4 linked regions of the Homo sapiens genome follow. The protein of the gene in region 3 interacts with the protein of the main gene of each other region in a pairwise test. Each region holds a gene or a part of one and is shown on either strand. Other genes may lie near its edges.

Region 1 (3,500 bases), on a different chromosome or scaffold from region 3:
AGAAATGTTAACAGTTCAAGTCCAACAGAACTTAAAGGAAAAAAAGAGAAATGTTAACAGTAAGTAAGGCATTTATTTAACATAATCTCAACTAAAGTCCAACTAAAGAGCTTCCCCAGGCAAACACTCCTTTTGCACTTCATTTTGAAGACAAAAGAATGCACAAGTTAAAATCCTAATATTACCATTTTATTAAAAATAACTTTTAAGATCCAATCTGTGGCCAATATTCGATCTGGATGCAAAACCCTGGCTTCCAGACAGGCCAGCCAGGGGCACTGCTCTGAAGGTCATTACTTAAGTATCCCAGTCTCCTCAGTCTGACAGACCTACCCCTGCCCAGCCAATCTCCACATAACAGCTAGTTGTTCATAATAAATCCCATCAGATCCCCGCTTAACTACTCCCCTTCAAAGGCTCCACTGCCCTCAGGAAATAGTTCAACCACCTTCTGTAGAAAGGCCTTCTAAAACCTCTCTCCGAGTCTGTCTGCTAATCTCTCCCACTTGACACTCCCCAGGTCTCTGGCCAGCTGAACTTCCCGGGCATTTCCTGAACAATGCCCCTCAATAAACCACATGCAACTCTCATTTTCTGATGCCACCGCGCTTTGTACATTCAGTTCCGTCTATATGCCACCACCTCCTCTGGAGAGCTGTGGACTTGTCACTCACCATTCCCCCCAAGCCCCCTAGTAGACCATAAACTCAAGGGCAAGGACCACCACATCTTATTCATCTTCATTTTACCACACCCTAACTCACAGTAGTTGTTCAATAGATATAAAATGAATGGCCCTGAATTCCTCCCAAAGGGTCCTATGCTCCTAACCTACCTAACCTAATAGAGGTATTATGCACTCTGGATCCTGACGAAGGTTTACAAGCAGGGCTGCCTATCTCTGTAACACATCTAGAAGGTAAAGTGATCGTTTTTCTGAGTAAAAAAATCTAGCACAATGGGCAAAGAATCTGAATAGACATTTCTCCAAAGAAGATATAAAAATGGCCAATAAGCACATGAAAAGATGCTCAATATTAGTCATTAGGGAAATGCAAATCAAAACCACTTCATAGCCAACAGGATGGTATAATAAAAAAAAATATATAGCAAAAAGTATTGGTGAGAATCTAGAGGAACTAGAACCCTCAGACACTGCTTGTGGGCATGCAAGACGGTACAGCCTCTTTGGAAAATAGTCTGGTAGTTCCTCAATTGATTTTTTGTTTTTTGAGACAGGGCCTCACTGTCACCTGGGCTGGAGTGCAGTGGTGTGATCATAGCTCAACGCAGCCTCAACGCCCTGGGCTCAAGCAATTCTCCTACCTTAGTCTCCCAAGTAGCTGGGACCATAGACGTGCCATCGTGCTTGGCTAATTTTTTTTTTTTTTTTTTTTTTTAAGGTTTGCCATGTTGCTCAGGCTGGTCTTGAACTCCTGGGCCCAAGCAATCCTCCCACCTCGGCCTCCCAAAGTGTTGGGATAACAGACATGAGCCACTGCACCCGGCCCCTCAGTTTAACAGAGTTCATACAACTCAGCAATTTTATTACTGGGTATTTGCCCAAAAGAAATGAAAACACATTTATACAAAAACTACACAACTGTTTATAGCAGCATTACTTATAATAGCCAAAAAGTGAAAAAAAAAATACAAATGGCCATCAACTTATGAATGGGTAAATAAAATGTAGTATATAGGCATACAATGGAATATTATTTGGCAATAAACCTTGAAAACATTATGTTAAGTCAAAGAAGCAAGTCACAAAAGACCAGAGCTACGGTTCCGTTTTTATGAAATATCCAGAATAGGTAAAAAGTAGATTTGGGGTTTGTATGGTTTTTTGAGACAGGGTCTCCCTCTTTCACCTAGGCTGGAGTGCAGTAACATGATCATGGCTCACTGCAGCCCCAACTTCCTAGGCTCAGGTGATCCTCCCACCTGAGCCTCCGGAGTAGCTGGGACTACAGATGTGAGCCACCACACCCAGCTAACTTAAACAATAAAATTTTTTTTTAGGCCGGGTGCGGTGGATCACTCCTGTAATCCCAGCACTTTGGGTGCCAAGACCGGCGGATCACGAGGTCAGGAGTTTGAGACCAGCCTGGCCAATATGGTGAAACCCCGTCTCTACTAAAAATACAAAAATTAGCTGGGTGTGGTGGTGGGCACCTGTAATCTCAGCTACTCGGGAGGCTGAGGCAGGAGAATTGCTTGAATCCGGGAGGTGGAGGTTGCAGTGACCTGAGATCACGTCACTGCACTCCAGCCTGGGTGACAGAGTGAGACTCCATCTCAAAAAATAAAATAAAATAAAATAAAAAATAAAATAAATAAATAAATAAATAAATAATTTTTTTTTTTTTTTTAAGAGGTAGAGTCTCTCTATGTTGCCCAAGCTGTTCTTGAACTCCTGGGCTCAAGTAGTCCTCCCACCTTGGGCTCCCAAAGTGCTGGAATTATAGGTGTGCGCCACCTTGCCTAGCCGAAAAGTAGATTTGTAGTTGCGGCTGGGGAGAATTTGGACCATGGGGTGAAAGGGGATTGACTGCTAATGGGATTTTAAAGGGGTGATAAAAATGTTCTAAAATTGATTGCAGTGATGATTGCACAACTCTGAATATTCTAAAAATCACTGAATTATAATATACAATTTAAGTACATTGTATGGTATGTGGATTATACCTCAAAGCTGTTATTAAAAACATCTTGGCACATAATCTAAAACATTTTTGGTTTCTTTTTTTTTTCTTTTTTTGAGACAGAGTCTCAGTCTGGCACCCAGGCCGGAGTGCAATGGTGTGATCTCAGCTCACTGCAACCTCTGCCTTCTGGGATCAAGCGATTCTCCTGCCTCAGCCTCCTGAGTAGCTGGGACTACAGGCACACGGCACCACGCCCGGCTAATTTTTGTATTTTTAGTAGAGACGGGGTTTCACCATGTTGGTCAGGCTGGTCTCAAACTCCTGACCTCGTGATCCGACCGCCTCGGCCTCCCAAAGTGCTGGGATTACAGGCGTGAGCCACTGTGCCCGGCCCATAATCTGAAATGTTTTTGATTTGTGACTTAATTGAAAAACTTACAGATTTTTACTATGGCCGGGCGCGGTGGCTCGTGTGCAATCCCAGCACTTTGGGAGGCCAAGGCGGGCGGATCACCTGAGATCAGGAGCTCGAGACCAGCCTGGCCAACATGGTGAAACCCCATCTCTACTAGAAATACAAAAATTAGCTGGGCGTGGTAGTGGGTGCCTGTAATCCCAGATACTCAGGAGGCTGAGGCAGGAGAATCACTTGAACCCGGTGAACCCAGGAGGCGGAGGTTGCAGTGAGCTGAGATCATGCCATTGCACTCCAGCCTGGGCAACAGAGCAAGACTGTCTCCAAAAAAAAAAAGAAATAAAAATTTTACTAATATATAACGTATTTTATTTGGCCTGTTGGAAATGGGTGTTTGGAATTACCAAACACCCATTATTATTATTCTAGTTAGAGAC
Region 2 (3,500 bases), on a different chromosome or scaffold from region 3:
AAGACCAATGAATGGCTCAAAATGTTGAAATCCGTTTCACATGGACGGACCTGCTCTCATGACAAATGTCAATCAATGGAGGTGGCCGGGCCAGTGACCCTCCCTAGAAGGGATAAGCCTCCTGAACGTGGCCAAGTATCAAGTTCTTGCTGTGTGCGCCAAGGAGTTCCAGCACCTTGTCCTGTTTGCAACAGCTCTATGTCAGCAGCTCAGAAGCCAACATTATTTGTCTCAATTAAGAGTGGGCTCTTTAACACCATTGTTTTAAAAAAATTTCTCCAACTGTGGGACTTACAGTGTGAGCCGTCAGCCGTCTGTGCACTGTTTTGGGGATTACGATAGATGTTTTGAATCAAGATGGTCTGCGGGGAAAAAAAAATAAAAAGGGGAATTCTACTGGCTGCTGTGCATATATTAGACAATTGCAAAGAGACAATTTGTTTGCAAATGGCTAAACGTTTGTTTTTTTCCCGCAAGTCAGACATTTGTCTTCTGAAGAGTACACCAAAACCATCATATTATGAAAACAGAGTTTGAGCAGTGACTTGGGTCAAGTCAGCCAGCAACCAAGAAGAAACTGTATTGTTTTGATTAGTCCCACGTTTTCAATGTTAAAGTGTTTTAATGCAAGATAAATAGTAGAATACTAATATTTTCTTGTACTTCAAGCTAGCAGACACCAAGATGTGGAAAAATTCACGTTATAATCATATTCCTCACACAAGATAATTTTTCAAAACCAAATGCGTAACTCAGCTGTCTGCAGTACATCAAGTTCTCTGGTCTCCTAGCAAAACAGGCACACCAAACAGGTCTGTCAACTGTCATGGACACCCGGCTCTGATTTACACTTTCTTGGTGGGATCTCTGTTTACATAATACAATAGCTTAAAACATTTGCTCTTTTCCGATCCTTCTTTTAAGGAAAAAAAATCCTTTTAGCCCTTGTGCTTTAAACTGGATCAGGCAGACTTGAAACCTTACACTGTACCGTTCTTCTTAAAATCAAGTTGTCTGAAAAAACAAACCATGTTTAAGTTAGTAGGCTAATATATTACATGAATCTTAACGTCCATATCACTGTAAGCAGCTTATAAAGAAACCCACCCTGAATTATGCTAGAGATTTACAAGCTAAAGCAATCACTCGCATGATTTAGAAAAATAAATGTTTAGTCTCAACAATATCCACGTGAAGCAGTTTTGTAAGTGGTGGTTTTATAAAACCAGCCAGCTCCATTTCTAGCTCTGTTTAAAGGGGAGTGGTTGTATGAAGAGTTCCTCAGTCAAAGGTGTGCAGCTGGGAAGCCCACCCCACCTAAGAGGGAGGTCTGACAAACTGTCCACACTGAACCACTCAGACCTGCATCAGGGCCCCGTTTCTTCCATAAGCCGCCAAGTACAGCCCTGAGTCAACTGAACTCAGGCCTGGGAGGCTTCCCAAAGCTGACTTGACTCAGCTTTGAACTGAAATGACCGTACCATGACAACCCTGATGAAAAGCTAAACTGAGCCCAATTATTCAACAGTAAAATTCAGTTGGTCTCACTCAGGTATTCTGGCAGTGGCTATTTAATGAAGGAAGCTTAACGTAAAGAGGCAATGCAGTCTAATGGGAAAGCCAAGGGTGGCTAGGATTGCCTAAAACCAACCAAAACAAACCCACGCATCAAACTAGGATGCTTAAGCTGACACATACTACTGACCCCATCGAGCTCCAATGGGCTCTCCCCAGCACTGACCTGGAATGCCTAAATTAACTTCACATTTCACATTCTCAGGTAATCTATGATCCAGAAAAACATAAAGAAAGTGCCTCCAGCCAGATTAAAGAAAACTTTTAGAATAGGGAACAGTTGATTTCTCTCAGCCCAACACTTGGGACACCCCCCAAAATCAAAGAACTGGGTGGTCACTTAAGATGCTTGGTTATACCACAATCCATGGCCACTGGTTTAGTTAGGGGAGATTCGGTTCATAAATCAAAACATTAAAGAAAAAACAATTGCAATACACAGAAAATGTAAAGCTAGTTCTCCAAGATTTTGAAATTTGTAAAAAGAAACTCATGTTCAGAGCTATCAAAAGACAGACTGCTATTATACTAACCACTTGGTAATTAGCATAATGGAGGGAAAAGCCATCATCCTCTTCCCTTCTAAAAACACTGTGTGCTGTGGGGTCGTCCATGGGCTTCAACCGGAAAAAACCCATGTTTCCTTCTCCCAGCTCACTTACACAAAGTGGTAGATTTTCTTAAATGCTTACAGGAAAACGTATACAGACAGATGTGAGCTCAAAGGCAGAGCCTGGCAGCTCCCAGGGACCACGCATAATAGCTACTCAACAGCTCAGAGGCTGCACATTTAGACTTCAAGGGTGGGTTGGAAGGAGTTCCCCAGCCCTCCATCTGGAAAGACTTGGGCATCGATTTTCAAATTTCAAATGTTCTCATCAACGTGGGCACAAGTTTTCTGCTCCGATTAGAGGTGCCTTCTCCCTTTAATCCGTAAGTGATCCTTTATAGTGTACCAACCTTTGCCTTTTCTTCAACTAACCAAAAATAAAACTATCAAAACTCACAACTTTTGATTGAACTGAACTCAGAGCGGATCTAAGCCCAAGATAACAGGCACTCCTCAATTAACCAAACAGACCCGCTAAGAGCAATTTACGGCCCATTTTCTACCTTTCAGCTTAATTTTTCATGTTTCCATGACGTGATGCGACTCGCTGTTTCCTCAGCTAGGGATGTGAAAGTGAGGACGCAGCCAGAGAAGCTCGAGCAGCATGATGGGCCTGGTGACAATCACGCTAACTTGGAAGGTGGCTCCATCACCTCTACTGTCTGGAGACAGCAAAGAGCAGAAAGCCCACTCCGTGTCCACTGGTGCCTGGAGGAGGCTAACCCAAGGCTGGCACGGCCACCCCCTCTGGACCCATGTCTATCAGAGGGGGTAGGGAAGATGGCAGGGCAGCAAATATCAGGCACAGCCAACACACAAACATCAAAAACTGATTTTTAAAGTTTCTCTAATGATAAAAACAAGGAGTGGTGGTCTCAGACCTTCCACTGGAAGTCGATCACCTGCCTCACTATTATTTAAATAAAAGAACACACTTATGAACACAAATGGAAAATACAACTACGAGAGAAAAAATGACTTGCTTAATATGTAGAAATTAACTGTCTTTGAAAAGAACATGAAGTTTTTATAATTTACATGAAAAAAAGGCAAACAAACCTGGCTAAACGTCGGTTTATTGTGCAACCGAGAGCACCTGTCTCCATGACGACATGCTCCAATTTTGAAATAAAATGAACAGTTGACTCTGTAAGGGAAAATGAGAGCTGATTATTTTGCTGGGAAGATATCAAACACATGGAATATGTCAGCAGCATGACATACACTATCAAATTACTTTTAACCTCACAGAAACATGACACAGACTTTTTTCCGTGGTATTAAGCACCTCCTCTTCCTTGCTGTATTTTAGGAC
Region 3 (5,447 bases):
GGGAGGCCGAGGCAGGCAGATCACCTGAGGTCGGGAGTTTGAGACCAGCCTGAGCAACATGGAGAAACGCCGTCTCTACTAAAAATACAAAATTAGCCAGGTGTGGTGGCGCGTGCCTGTAATCCTAGCTACTCGGGAGGCTGAGGCAGGAGAATCACTTGAACCCAGGAGGCAGAGGTTGCGGTGAGCTGAGATTGTGTCATTGCACTCCAGCCTAGGCAACAAGAACAAAACTCCATCTCAAAAAAAAAAAAAAGAAAGAAAGAAGAAAAAAAAAGAATCTAGTGGATGGGTATATATGGTGTTCATTGTAAAATTCTTTTTTTTTTTTTTTTTTTGAGATGGAGTCTCGCTCTGTTGCCCAGGCTGGAGTGCAGTGGCGATCTCGGCTCACTGCAAGCTCCGCCACCCGGGTTCATGACATTCTCCTGCCTCAGCCTCCCAAGTAGCTGGGACTACAGGCGCCCGCCACCACAGCCGGCTAATTTTTTTGTATTTTTAGTAGAGATGGGGTTTCACTGTGTTAGCCAGGATGGTCTTGATCTCCTGACCTCGTGATCTGCCCACCTCAGCCTCCCAAAGTGCTGGGATTACAGGCATGAGCCACCGCACCAGGCCCATTGTAAAATTCTTTAAACTTTGCTACATGCTTGAAATTTCACACTAAACTATGGAAAACACCATAAAGATAAGTAACAAATGGGGCAAATATCCATTAAACATGTTTTCAAACATTTTGGTTGACTTCCATTTTTTTAAACAATTATTTGTTCATGCATTCATTCAACAAATATTAACCTAACATTGGCTATACGATAAGTACTGTTCTAGGTAATGGGGATACTGCTGTGAACAAAATAAAGTCCCTGTCCCCACGAACTCAGCTTGGAACCCAAACTCTTTTTTTTTTTTTTTTTTTTTTGAGAGGGAGTCTCGCACTGTCCTCCGGGCTGGAGTGCAGTGGCGTGATCTTGGCTCACTGCAACTTCCACCTCCTGGGTTCAAGCGATTGTCCTTCCTCAGCCTCCCGAGTAGCTGGGATTACAGGTGCCTGCCACCACACCCAGCTAATTTTTTGTATTTTTAGTAGAGATGGGGTTTCATCATGTTGGCCAGGCTGGTCCCAAACTCCTGACCTCGTGATTCACCCGCCTCGGCCTCCCAAAGTGCTGGGATTACAGGCGTGAGCCACCACACCTGGCCCCAAATTGTTTCCCTACCGTAAATGCCTAGAGAAGAAATCACTGTCAGTGGTATGAGTAGTTATAAGGTTCTTGATACAATCAATTTGAACTGTAGTCATCAAAATTCAAGAACTGGGCCATCATGGTGGCTCACACCTGTAATCCCAGCACTTTCGGAGGCTGAAGCGAGTGGATCACCTGAGGTACGGAGTTCGAGACCAGTCTGGCAAACATGGTGAAACCCCGTCTCTACTAAAATACAAAAATTAGCCGGGTGTGGTGGCACGGGCCTGTAATCCTTGCTACTCAGGAAGCTGAGGCACAAGAATCCCCTGAGCCTGGAAAGCAGAGGTTGCGGTGAGCCAAGATCGCACCACTGAACTCCAGCCTGGAAGACAGAGTGAGACTATCTCCACAAACAAAAACAAACAAACAAACAAACAAAAAAAAAAGGAAAAAAAATCAAGAACTGAACAGATATGAATAAATTTATAAATTTTCAGATGAAATTATCCTGAACTCTCTTGACATCCAATATCCAAACCAAATAAATTCAGGTATTGAACTCTTGCTATCTAAACTCAGGAAGGGAACATATTTGGATAGAAAGGAATATTTTTAATTGGCCACCAAAGCACTCTGAACAAACACCTTCCAAAGGCATATCCCTTTTATAAAGCATTTCTAGGATGCTGGACTGAATCATCATATATGAGGATCTTCACAAAATGAGTATATTTCTAGAAAATATAAAATGCTAAAATTGGCAGAAGAGATGAAATGGTAATCAAAAACCAGCTCCAGATGCTTTTATTTTATTATTTTTTGAGACAGGGTGTCACTCTGTCACTGAGGCTGGAGTGCAGTGGCATGATCATGGCTTACCACAGTCTCAACCTCCCAGACTCAGGTAATCCTCCTGCCTCAGCCTCCTGAGTAGTTAGAACTATAGGCACCTGCCACCACGCCCAGCTAATTTTTGTATTTTTTGTAGAGACAGAGTTTCGCCATGTTGCCCAGGATCGTCTCGAATTCCTGGGTTCAAGTGATCCAACTGCCTCAGCCCACTGCGCCCAGCCTCCAGATGCTTTTAAAGGTGAGTCCTACCAAGTTTTTCGAGGTACAGATAATTCTTATACAAGTTTCTCCAATAAAGAGAGAATAACAAAGGCTGCCCAATTCATGTAATGAGGCTACCTTGATTCCAATGCCAGATAAATACTGAAAATAAAAATATTGGACTACCTCACTGATAAATACAGGTGTAGATATCCTAGATGATACAATGGCTAATAAAATCTAACAAGGTTTTAAAAATATACATAAATCACTTAAATAACATTTCTGCCAAAAACTCATGAGTAAGCATCAGAAAAATCCAAACTGAGAAACATTCTATAAAACAACTAACTTTAAAACATGCTTTCAATATAATCCATAGGTTCAGGAAAAAAAAAAATGACAAGGTCATAAAAGACAAAGATAGAATAACTGTTTCAGATTAAAGGAGACAAGGAGCTCAATGCAATACATGATCTTGGACTGGATCCTGGATTGGGGAAAACCATTATAAAGGACATTATTGAGAAGAGTGATAACATCTGAATATGGGCTTTATATAGAATAAAAGTACTATATAATTGTTTAATTTCCTGATATTGATAAGTATATTGTGGTTATGGAAGAGAACACCTTTGTTCTTAAGACGTACATGCTGCCAGACTTAAAAGGTCATGTCAGGCTGGATGTGGTGGCTCATGCCTGTAATCCCAGCACTTTGGGAGGCCGAGATGGGCGGATCACCTGAGGTCGGGAGTTTGAAACCAGCCTGATCAACATGGAAAAATCCTGTCTCTACTAAAAATACAAAATTAGCTGGGTGTGGTGACGCATGCCTGTAATCCCAGCTACTTGGGAGACTGAGGCAGGAGAATCGCTTGAATGCAGGAGGAAGAGGTTGCAGTGGGCCGAGATTGCACCATTGCACTCCAGCCTGGGCAACAAGAGTGAAACTCTGACTCAAAAAGAAAAGTCATGGCTGCCACCAACTCAAACGATTAAAAAAAACGTGTGTGTGTGTGTGTGTGTGTGTGTGTGTGTGTGTGTGTGTCTATGTAAAGATATAGAGCTATAGGGTGGGCCAGGCGCGGTAGCTCACGCCTGTAATTCCAGCACTTTGGGAAGCTGAGGCAGGTGGATCACCTGAGGTCAGGAGTTTGAGACCAACCTGACCAACATGGTGAAACCTCGTTTCTAATAAAAATACAAAAATTAGCCAGGCGTACTGGCAGGCGCGTGTAATCCCAGCTACTTGGAAGGCTGAGGCAGGAGAATTGCTTGAACACAGGAGGCGGAGGTTGCAGTGAGCCAAGATCACGCCATTGCACTCCAGCCTGGGTGACAGAGTGATTCCGTCTCAAAAAAAAAAAAAAAAAAAAAAAAAGATATAGAGTGATAGAGCAAATGTGGCAAAATACTTAAAACAAGTAATTCTGAGTAGAGGATATATGGGAATTCATTATACTTTTTCTTGCAACCTTTCTGTAAATTTGAGATATTTTCAAAGTAAGAAGTCATAAACATATACATACATACCATGATCAAGTGGGGTATAGCTCAAGAATGCCAAGGATATCATTTAATGCAATTTACAAAATTTTTATTTATTTTTTTGATATGGAGTCTCACTCTGTTGCCCAGGATGGAGTGCAGTGGCACGATCTCAGCTTATTGCAACCTCCACCTCCCAGGTTCAAGCGATTCTCATGTCTCAGTCTCCCCAGTAGCTGGGATTACAGACATGCTTCACCACGCCTGGCTGATTTTTTTATTTTTAGTAGAAATGAGGTTTCACCATGTTGGCCAGGCTGGTCTTGAACTCCTGGCCTCAAGCGATCCAACCACCTTGGCCTCCCAAGGTGCTGTGATCCACCATGCCAGGCCACAATTTATGAAATTAATGGACAAAGGGAGAAAAAAAGCACAGGATTTTGAAGTTCAATACTTATTTATGGTCAATCTTAGCAAACGAAGATTAGATAATTTTCTTGATTTATTAAAGGATACATTCTAAAAACTTACTGCATGCACCATACTTAATGGAGAAACTTTAGACACATTCCCTTTTATTCCTCTCCCTTCTTCCTACTGTCTCAACTGCCATGTGCTGAGGATGGCTACACAGAAGGGGCTGCCTGTCAGCCCTAGATTAATTGCTCTTCTGCAGACTGCCTTTATGGGAAAGAAAAGTAAACTATCTTGTCTAAGCCATTATCCTTTGGACTTTCTGCCACAACCAGCCAAAGTAAATCTTAATTTGTGTACCCAGTATCACTTATACTATTTAATATGGTACTAAAAGTCCTGGACAATACTATAAATGAAGAAAAATAAATAAGTGACAGGATAGATTTGCATACAATATGACCAACTACTTAGAAAGAACATCAGAATCAACAATGAAGTATTAGAAATAATAAGGGCATACAGCAGGGGTAACTTACAGAAATCAACAGCTTTCCTCTACCCCAGCAAATACCAGCATGAAAAATATTTTTTAAAAAATAAGATAATGGCCTGTAATCCCAGAACTTTGGGAGGCCAAGGTGGGTGGATTGCTGGAGCTCAGGAGTTCAAGATCAGCCTGGACAACATGGTGAAACTCCGTCTCTACAAAAAATTAGCTGGGCGTGGTGGTGCGTGCCTGTAGTCCTAGCTACTTGGAAGGCTGAGGTAGGAAGATCACTTGAGCCTGTGGAGGTCGCCACTGCACTCCAGCCTGGGTGACAGAGCAAGACCAAGTCTCGAGAAAAAAAAAAAAAGATAATGAAAGTGACTGAAGTACCTAGGGATTACTTTAACAAAGAATACATAAGACCTGTATTTCCATTTATGAAAATGAAAGCTTTTTATGCTCTTTACATAAATTTCAAAATATTCTCTACAAAGGTCTTAGATGAAATGACTACTTACAAAGATAATTTTCCCCAAATTAATAGAGAAGTTCAGTGTAACATCGATCAAAATTCTTGTTGTTTTTGAGGGACTTTGATAACTTTTGATATATAATAAAGCCCCATAAATGATTAAACCAGCTTTGAAAAATAAGTGCAAAGGAGCTACTAAGACATTCTATAAAGCCATAATAATAAAAACAGTAAGGTGCTGGCACAAGAATGTGCAAATAGACCAATGGAACAAATCACATCACTCAAGACGGATCCATGTACATGAGGGAACCTGAAATCAGATGAGGTACCACAG
Region 4 (3,500 bases), on a different chromosome or scaffold from region 3:
ACCTCATATAAGCGCAACTATAAAATATTTGTCCTTTTGTGACTGGCTTACTTTACTTAGCATAATGTCTTCAAGGTCTATCCATGTTGTAGCACGTATCGGAATTTCATTCCTTTTTCAGGTTGAATAATATCCTAACGTGTGCACATACCACATTTTACCTATTCATTTGTGGATGAACACTTGGGTTGTTGCCACCTTTGGCTACTGGGAGTATTGCTACTATGAACACTGGTGTACAAGTATCTGTTTGAATCTCCACTTTTGATTCTTTTCACCTAGAAGTGAAATTGGTGGATCATCATTCTGTTTGTTTAACCTTTTGAGGAACTGCCAAACTGTTTTCCTCAAGAGTATATTAAATGGAGGTTGTGGAGTCAACTTCTAGAGAGTGCTAAAGACCAGCAAATGGCCATCTGAGTGGGTCTGTGCCATTAGATCAAGAAAGAAGGACAATGCTAGAAACACCGGAGCATCCAGGGCTGAGAGTGTCCCGGGCCACAATAGGCACACATTGGTTTTGAGGCACAAACTGTTGAGTCTGTTAATAAGAAAGTATTGTATTTCTTCTTGGCCTCACGAGAACCTGAGCCTCAATGGCCACCACTGTCCTCTCTGTTCCAGCTGCCAAGAGTGACAAGACACACATACCCCGAGACTGCTGAGCAAGAACGGAAACAGACATTTTCCATTAAGCTAGGTCCAGTGGGATCTGCTAATCTATCAGAGCCTCATTCCCCACGGCGGCCTCTCTCTTATCTTCCCAGGCTCTGGCTCTGAGACACTCCCTCTCCAAAAAGCAATCACTAGCTTCCAGGACTAAAAGCCAAGGAGGAAATAAGAACCCAAGAACAGACGCCCCCTAAGCACCACACCCCGGGGCTCCAAACCCTAATCATTACTACTGTTATCCCCATTTGCTACATTCATCAACCCTTTTTCACTCTTAAGTCTCAAGTACCTGCTGCTAGGATACCGTTTTCACTCCCATTTTTGCACTCCTCATTTGTATTGCTTTCTGCTTTCTGGCTGCCCCAGGCTCTTCCATGTTTTCCATAGACACCCCGATAAACACAACAAATCTCATCCAGGTTCAAATACAATTGCAGCTACTCACAAACTGTGTTTTCAGGCAAATCACTTCTGTTCTCTAAACTCCTGTTTTCTTCTTTATAAACTAAAGTAAGTGCCCAGCACAGTTCAGACATTAAGCAGGTGCCCCACACAGATAAGCACACTCTCCCTTCCCTTTAGCTAGGGCTAAAACTTAGCTAAATCCACTGCAGGCAATTCTTATTTGGTTACTAGAAGTGACAAAAATTAGTGAAATCTGTCTCAGAGCTTCAAATTTTCTACTATCTTGGTAAACAATCTGAAAGTGGTGGTAAATACTAATCCAGATAACCCTGAAATTTCTGTGTGCTTTGGAATACACTTTATAAATGATAGAAAACTCTTCCAGCAGACTTATTCTTCTGATTTTGGTTTCTCATATGCTAGGAGAAGTCTGCCTCCCCTGAGCCTATGAAATCAACCAGTGTAGCTTGGGTCACAGCAAGAAGGGAAAAAGAAAGGACGATTATCCATTCTATGGATCATTCCTAATTCCCCACAAAAATCAAAAGCTGACTGAATTTAATTTTGGAATACGCCTGGAGGGAGAATTTGGTACTACGCTGACTGCAGATGATTGGATAATATGACCCAAATCAAATCAACCAAATTCTCACTCCAGGAAAACCAGAATTGAGACTACCATCATAGTTCAATCTGGACTGATCTCTAAAAGGAAAGAAATCAAAACCAAGGTGTGGGTGGCCATCCTTCACCTACAACAAAGGTTAAGAAGCCAATCCGCAGAGAAATAATGAATCAAGGCCAGAAGCAGTGGCTCACGCCTGTAATCCCAGCACTTTGGGAGGCTGAGGCAGGCAGATCAGTTGAGCCCAGGAGTTTGAGACCAGCCTTGGCAACATGGTGAAACCCCATCTCTACTAAAAATACAAAAATTGACCAGTCCCATAATCTGGTCTCAAAACAAATAAATAAATAAATATATTAAAATTTAAAAATAAAACAAATTTTTTAAAAAATGAATCAGATGTGCAAAGAACAGCTGTGTAGAGATCCCCAACAGATCTCAGGTTCCTGATGCAGGTCCCTTCTGAGGTACCACAGTATATTTATGATGCATTACCATTTAAGGCTAGGCGTGGTGGCTCACATCTGTAATCCCAGTACTTTGAGAGGCCAAGGCAGGAGGGCTGCTTGAGCTCAAGAGTTCAAGACCAGCCTGGGCAATGTAGCGAGACAACGTCTCTATTTATTTAAAAAAGAAGAAAAAAAAAAAACATTTAAACTAGCTTGAGTTGGCTTCTAACACTTGCAACAAATGAAATCTAACTAACCCCCAATCTGCTCTGCCTCCCGTATTCCCTCAATAAATGGCAACACCACCCCCCAGCTGCCTGAGGCAAATGCAGTGGGGGTCAATCTTGAATCCTCTCCTTAGTGTAACATCTAATCAATCCTCCAGTCTTATCACTTCCCCCTCCTAAATATACCTCGATGCTCCAGTTCTCTCCATCCCCTAGTTCATCATCCAGGCCACCAGCCTCTCACATTCTGCCAGTCTTGCTCCCTCCAAGGTTCTCACCACTCTGTGATCAGAGAATTCTTGCCTTTAAGGGGTCTTCACAACCCCAAAATGAGGTAGAAAGACCCTAGCATGGCATCCAAGGCCCATTATCTGGCCTGAGCCTCTCTCTCTCTAGCCCCATTCTCTCAGCACTCCCCACCCTCTCAAATGCTCCAGCCACTGTGCTTTACTCACCTGAGGTTCCCTGAAAGCACTGTCCCTCTCTGTCCTCCAAGCTTTTATACATTGTTTCCTCTGCTGTGCTGCTCCCATACTACCCTTTCTTCAGCCTTATCTCTGCTTAGACATCTCCCCCCAGAGGGCTCCCCAACCTCCCAAGACTGGACTAATGCCCACTAGGTATACTCCAATGGCACCAGCTTATCACGGTCCTTCTCTGCCTTGTCCTAAAATCTATTTCCTTCTGTGTTTTCTCCAGTAGATCATAAGCTCCTTTCGGGCTGGGGCTATCATGTTCACTACTGTACATTCTTAGCTCCAGGTACAAAGAAAGAGCTCAATATCAATTGAACGAAATGGTTGAGAGTTAATTACTTCTAATTACTTCTACTTCAGCACCAAACTCTAAAGGGAAATTATTTACTTAAGGAAACCTAATTCATTCTTTCAAATGCGTACTAAGAGCCTAAGTGTAAGACATAGAGCTCAGAACTGGAGGGGCTTACATCTGGAGGGGGCACAGCTCTTTTAAAGACAATGGTTGGCTGGCGTGGTGGCTCACACCTGTAATCCCGGCACTTTGGGAGGCCAAGGTGGTCAGATCACCTGAGGTCAGGAGTTGAAGACCTGCCTGACCAACATGGAGAAACCCCAGTCTCTACCAAAAATACAAAATTAGCTG

Evidence for each region. Proteins that work in one complex are often made in the same cells at the same time.
Region 1: the proteins of RBM10 (region 3) and PRC1 interact in a two-hybrid assay, tested with the Homo sapiens proteins (one large-scale study listed by BioGRID).
Region 2: the proteins of RBM10 (region 3) and U2AF1 interact in a two-hybrid assay, tested with the Homo sapiens proteins (one large-scale study listed by BioGRID).
Region 4: the proteins of RBM10 (region 3) and PRCC interact in a two-hybrid assay, tested with the Homo sapiens proteins (one large-scale study listed by BioGRID and IntAct).

The regions. Positions count from the first base shown.
Region 1 is NC_000015.10:90,988,036-90,991,535, forward strand, and holds part of PRC1 (protein regulator of cytokinesis 1), read right to left. Parts: intron 590-3,500; exon of another isoform or gene 1-589. UniProt on the Homo sapiens protein: Key regulator of cytokinesis that cross-links antiparrallel microtubules at an average distance of 35 nM. Essential for controlling the spatiotemporal formation of the midzone and successful cytokinesis.
Region 2 is NC_000021.9:43,101,071-43,104,570, forward strand, and holds part of U2AF1 (splicing factor U2AF 35 kDa subunit), read right to left. Parts: intron 3,333-3,500; coding exon 3,245-3,332; intron 363-3,244; coding exon of another isoform or gene 296-362; intron 1-295. UniProt on the Homo sapiens protein: Plays a critical role in both constitutive and enhancer-dependent splicing by mediating protein-protein interactions and protein-RNA interactions required for accurate 3'-splice site selection. Recruits U2 snRNP to the branch point.
Region 3 is NC_000023.11:47,150,622-47,156,068, reverse strand, and holds part of RBM10 (RNA-binding protein 10), read right to left. Parts: intron 1-5,447. UniProt on the Homo sapiens protein: Binds to ssRNA containing the consensus sequence 5'-AGGUAA-3'. May be involved in post-transcriptional processing, most probably in mRNA splicing. Binds to RNA homopolymers, with a preference for poly(G) and poly(U) and little for poly(A).
Region 4 is NC_000001.11:156,770,535-156,774,034, reverse strand, and holds part of PRCC (proline-rich protein PRCC), read right to left. Parts: intron 1-3,500. UniProt on the Homo sapiens protein: May regulate cell cycle progression through interaction with MAD2L2.